Homo sapiens: one gene and its partners. The gene in region 4 interacts genetically with the main gene of each other region. Each region holds a gene or a part of one and is shown on either strand. Other genes may lie near its edges.

What was found.
Region 1: changes in PRODH (region 4) and ACY1 together harm fitness less than expected from each alone (positive genetic interaction), as found in Homo sapiens cells (one large-scale study listed by BioGRID).
Region 2: changes in PRODH (region 4) and MAP2K7 together harm fitness more than expected from each alone (negative genetic interaction), as found in Homo sapiens cells (one large-scale study listed by BioGRID).
Region 3: changes in PRODH (region 4) and ERBB3 together harm fitness more than expected from each alone (negative genetic interaction), as found in Homo sapiens cells (one large-scale study listed by BioGRID).

Annotation. Positions count from the first base shown.
Region 1 is NC_000003.12:51,986,362-51,989,770, reverse strand, and holds the end of ACY1 (aminoacylase-1), read right to left. Parts: intron 3,357-3,409; coding exon 3,267-3,356; intron 3,167-3,266; coding exon 3,110-3,166; intron 2,784-3,109; coding exon 2,710-2,783; intron 2,625-2,709; coding exon 2,575-2,624; intron 2,463-2,574; coding exon 2,318-2,462; intron 2,216-2,317; coding exon 2,147-2,215; intron 1,248-2,146; coding exon 1,168-1,247; intron 1,006-1,167; coding exon 945-1,005; intron 861-944; coding exon 696-860; 3' UTR 574-695; downstream 1-573. Other genes in the region: ABHD14A-ACY1 readthrough (NMD candidate), read right to left, coding at 696-860, 945-1,005, 1,168-1,247, 2,147-2,215, 2,318-2,462, 2,575-2,624, 2,710-2,783, 3,110-3,166 and 1 more. UniProt on the Homo sapiens protein: Catalyzes the hydrolysis of N-acetylated amino acids to acetate and free amino acids.
Region 2 is NC_000019.10:7,906,872-7,910,617, reverse strand, and holds part of MAP2K7 (dual specificity mitogen-activated protein kinase kinase 7), read right to left. Parts: intron 864-3,746; coding exon 722-863; intron 556-721; coding exon 489-555; intron 359-488; coding exon 245-358; intron 166-244; coding exon 46-165; intron 1-45. UniProt on the Homo sapiens protein: Dual specificity protein kinase which acts as an essential component of the MAP kinase signal transduction pathway. Essential component of the stress-activated protein kinase/c-Jun N-terminal kinase (SAP/JNK) signaling pathway.
Region 3 is NC_000012.12:56,097,050-56,100,715, forward strand, and holds part of ERBB3 (receptor tyrosine-protein kinase erbB-3 isoform 1 precursor), read left to right. Parts: coding exon 1-181; intron 182-735; coding exon 736-891; intron 892-1,450; coding exon 1,451-1,526; intron 1,527-1,709; coding exon 1,710-1,856; intron 1,857-2,598; coding exon 2,599-2,696; intron 2,697-2,788; coding exon 2,789-2,980; intron 2,981-3,124; coding exon 3,125-3,196; intron 3,197-3,666. UniProt on the Homo sapiens protein: Tyrosine-protein kinase that plays an essential role as cell surface receptor for neuregulins.
Region 4 is NC_000022.11:18,919,257-18,923,002, forward strand, and holds part of PRODH (proline dehydrogenase 1, mitochondrial isoform 1 precursor), read right to left. Parts: intron 3,678-3,746; coding exon 3,561-3,677; intron 3,149-3,560; coding exon 3,069-3,148; intron 2,168-3,068; coding exon 2,086-2,167; intron 543-2,085; coding exon 450-542; intron 342-449; coding exon 195-341; intron 1-194. UniProt on the Homo sapiens protein: Converts proline to delta-1-pyrroline-5-carboxylate.

The DNA of each region.
Region 1 (3,409 bases), on a different chromosome or scaffold from region 4:
GGGGCCATAGTTTACTCTTGGTACTACCTGGGGGTCCTAGCAAGGCTGAGATGAAAGCCCAGTTCCTGGGCCTCTGCACACACAGATCCAGGGTGCTGAGGCCTCTAAGATGAACTGACCTAGTCTACCAGGGACCCTGCCCCTCTGTGGCCCCTGCTGCCAACACAAGGGTGTACAGGTTTTGACAGGAGCCAGCAGTCACCGTTGGCCCTCTGCCTGCCCCTCATCTAGCAGGGGCCCAGCTGGTGCTATTCTGGTACTGTCTCAGGATCCCAGATGTACACCCAGGAAGATGGGAGTGGTTCCTGAGGTCCTTAGTATCCCTCTTTAATGGGAATGGAATCCCTGATAGGTCAGAACTAAGTATGGTGGCCACTCAAATAGGAACTGTGGCCCTTTCTTGCTAGGCACAGACATGGCTGGATGGTACTGAATGGGTGTGCTGTGTCAAGGGGCACAGAGCAGTGTGGGGTAGTGGGGAAGTGCTAACAGCCAGGCTCAGTTTCCTCATCTGTGAAATGGAGATGGTAACATGTCCCCAGGAAAAGGAAAATTCTTGCTCCACGAGTGTCCTTGTGTTAGTACTTCAGAGACAGCCCTGTCCATAGACTTTATTATTTGGAAGGGGGAAGAGGAGGTCCTTGGCACTGGTTGGGATGGAAGCCCCAGGGGCAAAGGTTTAGGAGTTCCAGGGCTCAGCTGTCACTGGGCAGGGCAGGCACACTGGCAAGGGCAGGCAGCAGGCGTGTATATATGTCCACCCCACGGAGGAACACAGCCTCATGCAGCCGTTCATCGTGGTCGTGCAGCAGCACAGGTGTGCGGTTCATGGGTGAGAAGCCTAGAGCTGGGACCCCCACCTGCAGGGGTGAGGAAGAGCCGTTAGGGAAAAGCCAGCACTCAGGCCCAGTCCACTGCCCAGGCACTATATGCAAGTGGCTCACCGCGCGGATATAGCGGTTGTCAGTGGCAGCAGGCATGATCTCAGGCTCCAGAGTGAGGTTCCTGTAGGAGAAAGAGCCTGATGAATGGGGAGGGAGAAAGCGAAGAATTGAAGGGGCAAAGGAAGGTGGGAAAGAGGTGGGAGAAGGAGGGAGAAGGGAGGGGGCAGCAGGAAGGAGAGGAGTAGGGGGCTGGGCTGTGAGGAGAGCTGGCCAGCGTGCTCACATATCCTTGCAGACCCGGCTAAAAGCTGCCCACCAAGGGTTTGAGTCATCAGTAGGTGTCACTTGGGGGTGCATCCACTTCTGAGGGACAGGAAGAATGGCAGGATCAGGACATGGGCCTGGGCATCTTGCCCTATTTCCCATAGAGTGGGCTGTGCCTAGTACATAACACCTCCCCACCCCCACTCCTTCACCTACCCAGACATCTGGGTAGCCAGTCCAGCCACAGGTCCTCTTTCAGCCCCTCAAATGTCCTAGGTCTGGGACCTTCCCACCCTCCGTCTACTTACCTCCTGTCCATCCTTCAGATCCTAGCCCAAGTGCCCCTTCCTCAAGATGGCTCCCCCAGACCTCTCAGACTAGTTGGATACTCCAGTTACAGGTTTTCAGAGTGCAAGGGGCCACCCTTTCCTGTACCACATGGGTTATATGAAAGTACGGCTGGGCGCAGTGGCTCATGCCTGTAATCCCAGCATTTTGCGAGGCCAAGGTGGGTGGATCACTTGAGGCCAGGAGTTCGAGACAAGCCTGGCCAACATGGTGAAACACTGTCTCTACTAAAAATGCAAAAATTAGCTGGGCGTGGTGGCAGGTGCCTGTAATCCCAACTACTCTGGAGGCTGAGGCACAAGAATTGCTTGAACCCGGGAGGCGGAGGTGAGCCGAGATTGTGCCACTGCACTGCAGCCTGGGTGACGGAGTGAGATTCTCTCAGAAAAAAGTAATATCACATAAATGTTTGATTTATATCTCCCCGTTTCACCATACAAGGGCATGAACTGTGCCTAATTTTACTCCCCACAGCATTCCCCAGCACCCACAGTGGCCTCTACAATGAATGCTTGTTGGAATAAAATGTGTCTGTCACAGATAAAGAAATGCCCAGACATATGCAGACACACCAAGCACACACTCCACTGTTGCACACTTGGGTCTCCCCCGGCTCCCACACTCTCCCATCACATGTCCCAAGTCCATACCTGAGCAAACTCTAGGGTGACCCCCTCGCCAGCTGCCTGGCACCAGCTCTGCAGCTGCTCCTCAAAAGCCTAAGAGAAGGGAGACGAGCTGATCCTTCAGGCTTTCCAGAGGCCTCTAGGACAAGACTGAGGACCCAGGATCCCTCCTCCAAACCCAGGTGGAGGTGGCACCTTGAAGTCCACATCCGGTGCCACACGGAAGTCAAAGCTGGCGCTCATGGTGGCAGGTATCACGTTATAGGCCACGCCACCCTCTAGCTTAGTCAGGTTCACGGAGGTCACGGACCCCTCTTTCAGGTGGGGGTTTGACTGCAGCCTGTGGTGTGGGGGCAGGGTAGCGGCAGCAACAGATAAAAGAGGTGGCTCAGACTCTATCCTCTGTGGTACCGCCTCCCAGAGCCACCCCACTGCCTCCCAGGCTGCCTCACCTCTGCCATTCCTTCTCCCGGAATGCCAGGATGGAGTTTACAACCTTGTGCTATGAGAATATGAGGTTAAATGGGACAGTGGCCTCAGGATAGAGCCTCCTGAACTCCCAGACTCCCTCCTGGGGTGCCACGTACCAGCTTCTCTGCTGCTGTGTCCTCCATGAAGCGTGAGGCATGGCCTGGCCTCCCAGTGCTGGTAACCCGCACCCCTGGGGAGGTGTAGGGGGAAGGCAGTGTCTTCAGCCTGAGGGGCTGGAGACACAATCAGCCTGGGGTGGGCCCAGGTCTCCCCCTCATTCCAGGCTCCTCTGGCAGGGTCCTGTCCCCACTCAGGGCCCGTAGCATACAGCTGGTTTCTGCCCATTCAGGGCTTGCCCTCAGAGAAGCTCAGATAGGAAAGAGCTGGGAGGTAGAGGCCCTGGGTTCAAGGCCTTCTCAGGCCTCAACTTTGCTGTGCAACCCTGCATAGGACCGTGCCCTTTCTGGCCTAGCCTCCCGCCTGTAGAGTGAGCCCTCCCTCCAAGCTCATACTTACACCAGGGACTCCGCTCACTATAAAAGACAGTGAAGGCATCAGTGGGATTGGCTATGCCTGAGGAGGGAAAGGGGGTTCAGAGGGTGGAGCAGCTCAGTCCCCACTAGCAGCCTCCTACTCCCTGCCTGGCTGCTCATTGGCTTGCCAACCTGCTCACCCTCATCCAGGGCAAAGCCTGCCCTCAGGGCGTGGAACTCAGGCCGCTGCACGAACAGCTCCATGCCTTGGTGACCCCCAACCTCCTCATCTGTAAAAGCAGCAGGGACGTGAGATGAGGAGGCTGCCCCGCCCCACCCTCCC
Region 2 (3,746 bases), on a different chromosome or scaffold from region 4:
GGGTGAGGGAGGAGGAGACGCTGCAGGGCGCGGCCAGGTACTCACGTTGGTGATGAACGTCCCAAAGCACTGCACGATGTAGGGGCAGTCGTGGCTCTTCAGCACCACATCCAGGTCCATGAGGATGCGCTTGTTCTCCTCCTTGTTCCCGGAGCGCCGCATTTGCTGCACAGGCAGGGACAGGAGGGAGCCTCAGCACCGGCCTGGGGTGTGGGGCGCAGCCGGGGTAGCCGCCAAGGCTCACCTTAACGGCAATGACGTGGCCGGTCTTCCGGAAGCGCATCTTCCACACCTGGCCGCAGGTGCCGCTGCCCATCTCGCCCAAGTTCTCCAGGTCGTTGATTTCTGCCTGGTAGCGCTGGGAGGAGAGGGAGGGTTGGAGGGTCCCTGGGGCCTCTGCCACCGCCCCCTGCCCCCCACTGGCGCTCCCAGGATGGGTCCAGCCTGGCTGGGCCTCCTCCCTCTCCCCGCCACAGTGAAGGTGGTACCTGGCCCCCGATGGTCAGGTAGCCCGTCTGCTTCATGATCTCCTGCAGCTTCTGGTCAATCTCAATGCTGGGGACATGGAGCAGGTGCCGGTGGAGGTGGGTCCTGACCTTAGGTTGGCCACCCCAGTCCCCCATACCGGGGTTCCCACCGGTTTAACCACCCTCCTCCCAGGGCTGGCACGGTGGCCCCTCAATGCTGCTTCCCACCCAACCCTGCTGGGCCCCTGGCTCACCTCTCCATGCTGCGGGGTGTGAACAGGGTTGACGGGAGCCCCAGCATGTGGCGGGGCCGGGCGGGGGGCGTGGGGTGCTGCGGGGAGCTCTCTGAGGATGGCGAGCGGCTGCCCCCATCGTTGGCCAGCGGGAGCTGCAGGGCTAGGGGGGTGAGAACCAGTGGCAGGGAGGGGGGTCAGCGCCCAGCTGGTGTCAGCTCCACATCTGGCACTCCAGGGAGGGGTCGGGACCCTCACCTTCCCCTCCTGGGTTTCCCGAGCTAGGCTGGCACAGCCCCCTGCCCTGCTGGGCTGGAGGAGCTGGGGTCTCCCTCCCACCCCAGACTGTTCTCAGGGTCCCTTGTCTCATCCCCTGACCTGGAAAGAGATGGAGGAGGCTAGCAGGGGAGAGGGAGCCCCAAGTCTACGCTGACGGAGAAACGAGATGGGGACCTGAGGTGTCCCTCGGCCAGGGGGCCTCCCTGACAGGTGTGTGCACTTCCTCCCACTTCTGCCCAGGAAGCAGGCCCAGGGCCACAGCACCCACAGGATGGATAGGCCAGGGCGGAGTGCCTGCCAGGGCTGGCCCAGGCTGTGGCTCTGCTGGTAGCACTGAAGTTGGCTCCCAGACAAGAGCGAGCAGGGCCACGCTGGGGAGGCAGCGGGCACGAGACCCAGGCTTCAGGCTGCCTTGCCCTATCTTCTGTTCCGGGGTCAGGGAGGGCCCCCCTCGGGCCAGTGGGCTGACATGAGGGCCTCCTGGCCTGGCCTGCAGAGCTGGGGCCCATGGGGGCAGGACAGGACCTCAGGGGGCCTGCATCCTCTGGGAGGAGAGCTCGGGGGCACAGCTCCTGCAGGGGCTGGCGGGACCAGGTGGGGCCAATGCTGGGCCAGGCGGGGGTTGGCTCATCCAGCAGCCTGCATGCGGGCAGCTCGGGCATGCTACAGCGGGTGGGCAGGCGGCGGGCAGGCAGCAGGCACCCTGGGGTGGGCAGGCGGCATTAGGGGTGGGAGGGCAGGAGACAGACAGACAGACAGGAACCAAGACTAGGGCCCAGGTGCCCAGAGGAGGCGCTGCAGAGACAGGCCAGAGAGGGGCCTGGGACAGGAGGGCAGCTTCCCGGAGGAGCTAGGGTCTCCCTGGCTGGGCTGGCAACAGGGTGCAGGAACAGAGGCCGGGATGCTAACGTGGCCTCCAGAGGAGCCAATCCTGACACGTCACATCCTAGAGGCCCTGACAACGGCTACACACACCTACCAAGGTGCCCCTCCCACAGGAGCTGGGGCCTGCCGCTCTCCAAAGCCCTCAGCCAACAAGCCCCTCTCCCCTCTTTTCCTCCTGCCTCGTCCACCTTTTCTCCCCACAGTTCTGCAGGCTCCTGGTGACTGGTGCCCAGGGACTAATATGAACAGACAAACCCGCTCCATGCTGGCAGCTAAACCCCGTCCCTCCCGTGTGCCCAGGACCCTGATCTCAGCCAGTAGGAGGGGCAGGAAGACGCCTCAGTCCCAATGCAGGAGGCCCAGCATTGCCCCTATCTGGTCCTGCCAGCCCCTGCAGGAGCTGTGCCCCCTAGCTCCCCTCCTGGAGGACCAGGCAGGAGCAGGGGAAGGGCTCTGGGGACCTTGGGACACAGCCAGGCCCAGCGTTCATGACTGGCCTAGAGGCCTCACCTCCCGTGCCCCTCCCGCTGTCCTGGCCACTGCCGCCTCTGCAGCACCACGTCACCTCCCACTGTTTTTTTTTTTTTTTGAGATAGGTTCTCGCTCTGTCACCCAGGCTGGAGTGCAGTGGCGTGATCTCAACTCACTGCAACATCCCCCTCCCAGGTTCAAGTGATTCTCCTGCCTCAGCCTCCTGAGTAGCTGGGATTATAGGTACACGCCACCACACCCAGCTAATTTTTGTCTTTTGAGTAGAGATGGGGTCTCGCTATGTTGGCCAGGCTTCTCCCTCTGCTTCTTCAGGTCCCTGCGCCTCTGCTCTGTCCATGGCCTGAGCCACAGCCCCAGTCCCCTTCTGGCTCCCGAGGGCCTGTGCTCCCCCCAACCCAGCCCCCAACCCCTGTGCACCTGGCATCTCTTGAGACACTGCCTAGTTCCCGCCCTCAGAGAGTATCCGAGTCCCGCTCACACCCTGCACTCAGCGGTTGACGACCACAGCCCTCGAGGAGTCCTGTGGGCCCCTTCCCTGACAGAGCCCACCAGGCCTTCCGAGGGTGGCCCCGGAGCCTGGGGAGGAGGCTGCCGGACCACAGACTGGAGCATGGGGGGATGGAAGGGAGGGTTCAGGTAGGCACTGGGGGAAGGAGGTACACAAAGGCCCTGAGAACAGAGGCCACAGAGGTGGTGATGGCCACATGGCAGCTCAGGAGGGTGGAGTGAGAGCAAGAGGGTGAGGATGAGAAAGAGAACGGATGAGAGAGAGCGAGAGGCTGGAGGGCACGTGTCTGCCGACAGGAGCCACAGGTGCACCGGCTGCCATGTCAACATGCACGCACATGCCGTGCAAGTGCACGCACGCACAACACACACCCGGGGCATGCCGTGGACCTAACACCCATGCAGCCGGGACAGAGTCCCCCTTGCCCTCGGACACACATACTCACAACCACTCACAGGGCCAGGCACCCCATCTACTCTCTCTCCCAACACAGGCGTGGGGCACAGCCTGCATGCCCCACACAGGCTGGCGCTGCGCTCAGAGCCCTGGCGGCCCTGTCTTCTCTCCCCCCCCAACTCCTTCAAGACGCTTTTTAAATTTTTTTTTTTTTTGAGACGGAGTCTTGCTCTGTTGCCCAGGCTGGAATGCAGTGGCGCGATCTCAGCTCACTGCAACCTCCACCTAATCTTTTATGTTTTTTTTTTTTTTGAGATGGAGTTTTGCTCTTGTTGCCCAGGCTGAAGTGCAATGGTGCGATCTCAGCTCACTGCAATCTCCGCCTCCCGGGTTCAAGCGGTTCTCCTGCCTCAGCCTCCCGAGTAGCTAGGATTACAGCCTCCCGAGTAGCTGGGATTACAGGTATGTGCCACCATGCCCGGCTAA
Region 3 (3,666 bases), on a different chromosome or scaffold from region 4:
GCTGGCCATTGGCAGCCTGGACCATGCCCACATTGTAAGGCTGCTGGGACTATGCCCAGGGTCATCTCTGCAGCTTGTCACTCAATATTTGCCTCTGGGTTCTCTGCTGGATCATGTGAGACAACACCGGGGGGCACTGGGGCCACAGCTGCTGCTCAACTGGGGAGTACAAATTGCCAAGGTGAGAGAAGCCTGGAGGAATTCTGTGATAAGAACTGCTTGTCTGGGGGCCAGCCAGGAAAAAGTGAGAAGGTTGAAGTTCTGAGAGGTGAGGTCCCCAACCCCCGGGCTGCAGACTGGTACCAGTCCATGGCCTGTTAGGAACCAGGCCACAGAGCATGTGAGCGGCAGGCAAGCGAGTGAAGCTTCATCTGTATTTACAGTCAGTCCCCATCACTTGCATTACCGCCCGAGTTCCGCCTCCTGTCAGATCAGGGGCAGCATTAGATTCTCTTAGGAGCTTGACTTCTATTGTGAACTGTGCATGTGAAGGATCTAGGTTGTGCACTCCTTATGAGAATCTAACTAATGCCTGATGATCTGAGGTGGAAAAATTTCATCCCAAAACCAACCCTCCCCTTCCCCTGGAAAAACTGTCTTCCACAAAACCAGTCCCTGGTGCCAAAAAAGGTTGGGGACCACTGCTGAGAGGTACCTTCAAGATTTGGGGGAATTCCAGATCTCAGTGACTGATTCCCCCAACCTTAAGAATACTTTCTTCCCCTATACCTACAGGGAATGTACTACCTTGAGGAACATGGTATGGTGCATAGAAACCTGGCTGCCCGAAACGTGCTACTCAAGTCACCCAGTCAGGTTCAGGTGGCAGATTTTGGTGTGGCTGACCTGCTGCCTCCTGATGATAAGCAGCTGCTATACAGTGAGGCCAAGGTGAGGAGACACAAAGGGTAAGGAGGCGGGGGTGGAGTGAAGCATGGGGATAGGGAGCAGCCAGTGGTCTCTTCCAGAGGCAAGCAGATGCTTCATGGTAAGTTCAAGGAGAGAAGGCTGCAGATGCCAGATATTTTAGTTCAGAGGGCAACAAATAAAATAATGATCAAGAACTTGGGACTGGCCGGGCGCGGTGGCTCACGCCTGTAATCCCAACACTTCGGGAGGCCAAGGCGGGTGGATCACAAGGTCAGGAGATCAAGACCATCCTGGCTAGCACGGTGAAACCCCGTCTCTACTAAATATACAAAAAAAAAAAAAATTAGCCAGGCGTGGCGGCATGCATCTGTACTCCCAGCTACTCGGGAGGCTGAGGCAGGAGAATGGCGTGAACCCAGGAGGCGGAGCTTGCAGTGGGCCGAGATCGCACCACTGCACTCCAGTCTGGGCGACAGAGCGAGACTCCGTCTCAAAAAAAAAAAAAAAAGAATTTGGGACTTGGAAATCCTAAGAAAATTTGTGGAAATAAACTTGTGATACCTCTATCTTTAATCCGCAGACTCCAATTAAGTGGATGGCCCTTGAGAGTATCCACTTTGGGAAATACACACACCAGAGTGATGTCTGGAGCTATGGTCAGTGCATCTGGATGCCCTCTCTACCATCACTGGCCCCAGTTTCAAATTTACCTTTTGAGACCCCCTCTTAGAATCTCTAAGCACTTCAGATTTTTGTGTTAGATCAGGTTCTGCCTTCCCTTCACTTCATGCCCATGTCTACTATTTTGCCAGTGACTAGTCCATGTCTTCCTGCAACAGGTGTGACAGTTTGGGAGTTGATGACCTTCGGGGCAGAGCCCTATGCAGGGCTACGATTGGCTGAAGTACCAGACCTGCTAGAGAAGGGGGAGCGGTTGGCACAGCCCCAGATCTGCACAATTGATGTCTACATGGTGATGGTCAAGTGTGAGTTACCTGCTGAGCCCAACCATTTTCTCTTTTTTTCTTTTTTTTTCTTTTTTTTTTTTTTTTGAGACAGAGTCTCACAATTGTCACCCAGGCTGGAGTGCAATGGTGCAATCAATCTTGGCTCACTACAACCTCCGCCTCTCGGGTTCAAGAGATTCTCCTGCTTCAGCCTCCGGAGTAGCTGGGATTACAGGCGCCCGCCACACCTGGATAACTGTTACACTTTTAGTAGAGATGGGGTTTCACCATGTTGGCCAGGCTGGTCTCAAACTCCTGACCTCAGGTGATCCGCCTGCCTCAGCTTCCCAAAGTGCTGGGATTACAGGTGTGAGCCATCATGCTCGGCCTGACTGCAGCCATTTTCTGACTTCCCTCTGTACTCCTCTTATGGCTCTATTCCTTTTTTTTTTATGGAGTCTCGCTCTGTTGCCCATACTGGAGTGCAGTAGCGTGACCTTGGCTCACCGTGACCTCCACGTTCCAGGTTTAAGTTCTTCTGTCTCAGCCTCCCAGATAGCTGGGACTTTAGGCGTGCACCACCACGCCCAGCTAATTTTTTTTTGTCTTTTTAGTAGAGATGGGGTTTCACTATGTTGGCCAGGCTGGTCTCAAAGTCCCGACCTCAGGTGATCCACCCGCCTTGGCCTCCCAAAGTGCTGGGATTATAGGTGTGAGCCACCGCGCCCGGCCATGGAATGTATTCTCTTTTATGTCTCTACCTCCTACATCTTATCTCCAGGTTGGATGATTGATGAGAACATTCGCCCAACCTTTAAAGAACTAGCCAATGAGTTCACCAGGATGGCCCGAGACCCACCACGGTATCTGGTCATAAAGGTGAGTAGGGAGTAGGAGGTGCTAAGGAAATTTAGAAAAAGGAGGAGTTGGCTGGAACCAGGATTCCCCCTAACAATCACCTATCGATATAGAGAGAGAGTGGGCCTGGAATAGCCCCTGGGCCAGAGCCCCATGGTCTGACAAACAAGAAGCTAGAGGAAGTAGAGCTGGAGCCAGAACTAGACCTAGACCTAGACTTGGAAGCAGAGGAGGACAACCTGGCAACCACCACACTGGGCTCCGCCCTCAGCCTACCAGTTGGAACACTTAATCGGCCACGTGGGGTAAGACAACTTCTAATTACCCAACACTTTGCACCCTGAGCCCTCACAAACCCTACAGATACCCAGATTAACTACTCAAAGGCCCCCATGGTGAATGTAGATTTCTCCCTTCATCTTAACCTTTTCCTTATTTTTTCATCCTAGAGCCAGAGCCTTTTAAGTCCATCATCTGGATACATGCCCATGAACCAGGGTAATCTTGGGGAGTCTTGCCAGGTAAGTTCTGTTGCTGAGAGGCTGGGTTTTAGGATCAGATTGATACGAGTAGTATGGAAGACATTAGAAACCTCTGAGGTTTAATCAGTGTCCTGCAAAAAAGAAGGCAGTGAGGGCCGGGCGAGTTGGCTCACACCTGTAATCCCAGCACTTTGGGAGGCCAGAGAGAGTGGATCACCTGAGGTTAGGAGTTTGAGACCAGCCTGGCCAACATGGTGAAACCCCGTCTCTACCCAAAATACAAAAATTAGCTGGGTGTGGTGGTGCACACCTGTAATCACAGCTACTCAGGAGGCTGAGACAGGAGAATCGCTTGAACCCGGGAGGCAGAGGTTGCAGTGAGCTGAGATTGTACCACTGCACTCCAGCCTGGGTGACAGAGCAAGACCCTGTCTCTTAAAAAAAAAAAAAAAAGGCCAGGTGCGGTGGCTCACGCCTGTAATCCTAGCACTTTGGGAGGCCGAGGTGGG
Region 4 (3,746 bases):
CTGGGTGAGCTGTGCTGCAGAAGACCCCAACAACCCCTTGGGGGCACGGCCCACTCCCTCCTCCATCCCATGAGCTCCCTGGTGGGTGCTGAGTGTAAAACCAGCCAAATGCCAGGGAGCTCAGATGAGAGGAGCCCCTCCTGTGGGGTCTCCAAGCCCCAGGGCAGGCAGGGAGGGGCTGAGCGGGGGCTTGCCTTGAGGTAGCACTGGTATGTGTTGAAGATGAGCGGCTTCTCCACATTGAACTTCCGCTGCATCTCCAGCGTCAGGCGGCTGATGGCCGGCTGGAAGTAGGTCTGCTCGGCATCCACCATCAGCCGCACGCCCATCTCTGTGGCTTTCTGAGAGGCGCAGGGGGTGGGAGAGTGGGAGCAACTGTTGCTCAAGTGAGGCAGGTGCCCTCTTCTCCACGAGTCCCAGGTACCCTCTGCCCGAGCGGGACAGCTCACCTTGGCCAGGACATCCATCCGCTGTAGCATCCTGGTCATCTGTAGCTCCTCCTCCTCAGTGAACCGGGACAGCAGGGGCTCCAGCTGTCCTGTCTGGGGGTGCAACACGCGGTCAGGCCACAGCAAGGGCGGGAAAGTGCCACCCTGAGGCCCAGGCTAAACCTCTCTCAGTATTCCCAGCCCACAGGAACCCTCTCACCCGTCTGTGCAGGGCTGGGAGGGAGGGCCACCTGGACAAGCAGCACAGTGCCCCTGAACCTCCAACGCAGCCAGTGCACTGCCCTATGCGGGGCCTAGGGGTACCACGAGGGAGCTCAGTGCCCATGTCAGTGGGCCCCAGGCTCAGTCCAGGCCTGCACTCCGAAGTGTGTACTCCCCAGTTCCCACAGAGGCCCCACCGTTGTGGGAGAGCCCCCTGCAACTCCCATGTGACATTGAACAAGTGAACACTGATCACCCAATCGTCAAACAGAAGGGCTCCACCCGGAGCAGGCAGAGGGCCCAGGAGGAAGACCCCTGGCTACAGGCAGACAGGGCAGTTGTGCAGCACGTGCTGACACGTAGCCAGGGACCAGGGCAACCACCAGGATGAGGCCTTCAAGTTGCTGGTGCTCAGAGGCCGTGGGGACCCATCCCGCAGGGCCTCCCGCTCACCCCTTTGCTGGCCCCAGCAGCCTTGCCTCACTGGGCACAAACAGTACCACTCTATCCCTTGCTACACCATGCTAAAGTCTCCAACAGCTGGTGGCCTTGGTGCACAGCCACACTGTACGCACTGCGCCCCGAGGCTCTGGGTCGGGGGCTCTAAGTTTGAGGCTGGGCCCTTAGTGGACTGGGGCTAGATGTGTCATGGAAAGCTGCCTCTGCAGGATGTTTTCTGAAGGTGCTTCTGTTCTTTCTTTGAATCCCAGTTTAAGCTGTGGTTTCAAGCAGTCTGCCAGGTCCTGGGCCCCCCTCCCACAGGCAGATGAGTCTCATTCCTCTCCCCGCTGTATACAGGCTGGCCTGGTGACATGCTTCTAACAAACAGAACTTGCCAGAAAAGACACCGTGTGACTTCTGAGGCGAGGCAGGAAAAGGTCACCCAGCTTCTGCCTGGCTCTCACGTCTCAGGTGACACTGGCCCTTAGAGCCCAGCTGCCATGTTGGGAAAAAGCCCAAGCCACAGCCAGCACCAACTCCCAGACATGTGAATGGGTGCCTCCCCCAGGTCCCAGCGCCACCACTCTGTGAGTACAGCTACCCAGGAGACCCCAGGGGAGGACTGCCCAGCTGAGCCCTGTCAACCCCAGAACCATGAGGCAGAAGCAGAGTGGCTGCTGCCGTTTCAGGCCTCTGAAGTTTGGGGTGACCTGATGCACAAGACAGATGACTTGGGGAAGGCCCCCAGACCCCCTCTCCTTGTGGTGTCTTAAGGCTCCGCGTGGGTCTCTGTCCCGCCAAGCACTCTGTGGACACTAGTGGGCTTGTCTTCTTCCCCCTGGACCACAGGGGGTCTGTGGGGCCATAGTGTGCAGTGATTTTGGTCATGTTAAGTTCCCAGGGTAGGCAACAAGAGACACACGTGGCAGGCTGAATTCCCTTCTTAGCGCAGCGCCCTGCTGAGCTGGGCCTCACTGAGGAGCGGAGGTGTTACCTGTGCGTTGGGGACTACCAAGTGCTTGGACAGCTTGGTCCTGCTGTCGATGAGGCTGCTCCAGTCCAGCAGGTCCATGGTGCTGAGGGAGGAGGCGCATCAGCAGAGGGGGCACCCCCACCTGTGGGTGCTAGGGTCGGGTGGGGGATCGAGGCCCAAACCTGTCCGTTCACCACCCACCACAAAACCCACCTCGGTGTTCAGTTTTAAAAGACAGAGGAAATATAAATATTGTTTTCTGTTTAAAAATTTAAAACCAGTGGCATGCGGGGGCTCAAACTTATAATCCCAGCACTTTGGGGGCTGCGGCGGGCAGGTCACTTGAGCCCAGGGGTTTGAAACCAGCCTGGGCAACATGGTGAGACCTGGTCTCTATAAAAAATAAATTAATTAAATAAATTTAAAACCAAAACACAAACAGTCCTGCATCTAGGCGGCTCTGAAAACACTGAGTACCCTAGGCTGTTTTGGGCTTGTGGAGGGGCCGAGCACAGGCAGCCAGGCAGGAGGCGGACACAGCTCCGGGCGGCCAGGGAGGACACAGTGGGCAAGGCTGGCAGTGTGTGAGGGGATGGCTCACTACTGCACCACCCCAGTCACCTCCCCACTTCAACTGGAGGCTCCTGGTGATCTGGGTCCCAGCCCCTGGCTCCAAGGATGGGGCATGGGGCTCTGATCCTTCACCTGCCGGCGTGGACTCCAGGGAGGGCTGAGAGTGCCACCTTTGCTCTGGACCCAGATAATTCTATAAAGAGCCCTCTATGGGGTCTGTGCTGGCCCTGTGTCTCCCCTGCCCAGCCCAGCCCCAGCCTCAGGGACTCCTGAAGCCATCAAGTCCTGCTGTGTGAAAAGCAGTTCCTTCAGCACTGTCATCCCAGGGCCCACCCTCTCAGGCAGGGCAGCCAGGACTGGGAGACGTCACTGGGGCTTGGCTGGAACCATGGCTGATGCTCGTGTCCTCTCAGCCTGGGGGCTGCTCTCACCCAGACACTCCCAGGGTCTCTGCCGTGAACCAGTCCTCAATCTCAGCCCTGGATGCGATGCCCAACTTTGCGACACTTTCCTTGAGAAGTGAGAAGGCCTGGATCAGCCCCATTCACTCATATTTTATCCTTCCCCCCACCCATTGGCCTCTGGTGCTGTTTCTGGCTTTATTACATCGTTAGTAAGAACAGGATCCATGTCTGGTTTGTTTCTACTGCATAGACAGGTCTATTCCCACCCCGCTGCTGATGCACGCCCACGCCCTGCAGGGCTGGGTCTCCAGCCCTCCTGCCAGCATCTCCCCTCTCTGTTCAGAGTCCCTCTGACCTCCTCCTCCCCACCAGGCCAACCCCAGCAGCTGCAGAGTGAGCCACATGCCCTGGGTGAGTTCCCAAAACCACCTCCGACCACTGCCCACCATGCCCCGTGTGACCCCACGGTGCCCACCCCCTCACAAGCCACAGGAGTGGGGAAGGGGAAGGCTGCCCCACCTGCAGCACCGCCACCTCCAGCTTGGTGTCCATGGCAGCCAGGCCCGCCTGCCCTTGCTCCACAGCCATTTGGTGAAAGAAGCACCTCCACTTGGCCAGCACCTCTGAGAACTGCAGCTGCAAACGCAGGCCTGAATGCCATCTGCACACGCCCCTGCCCACCCCAGTCCCCCACACAGCCCCTGT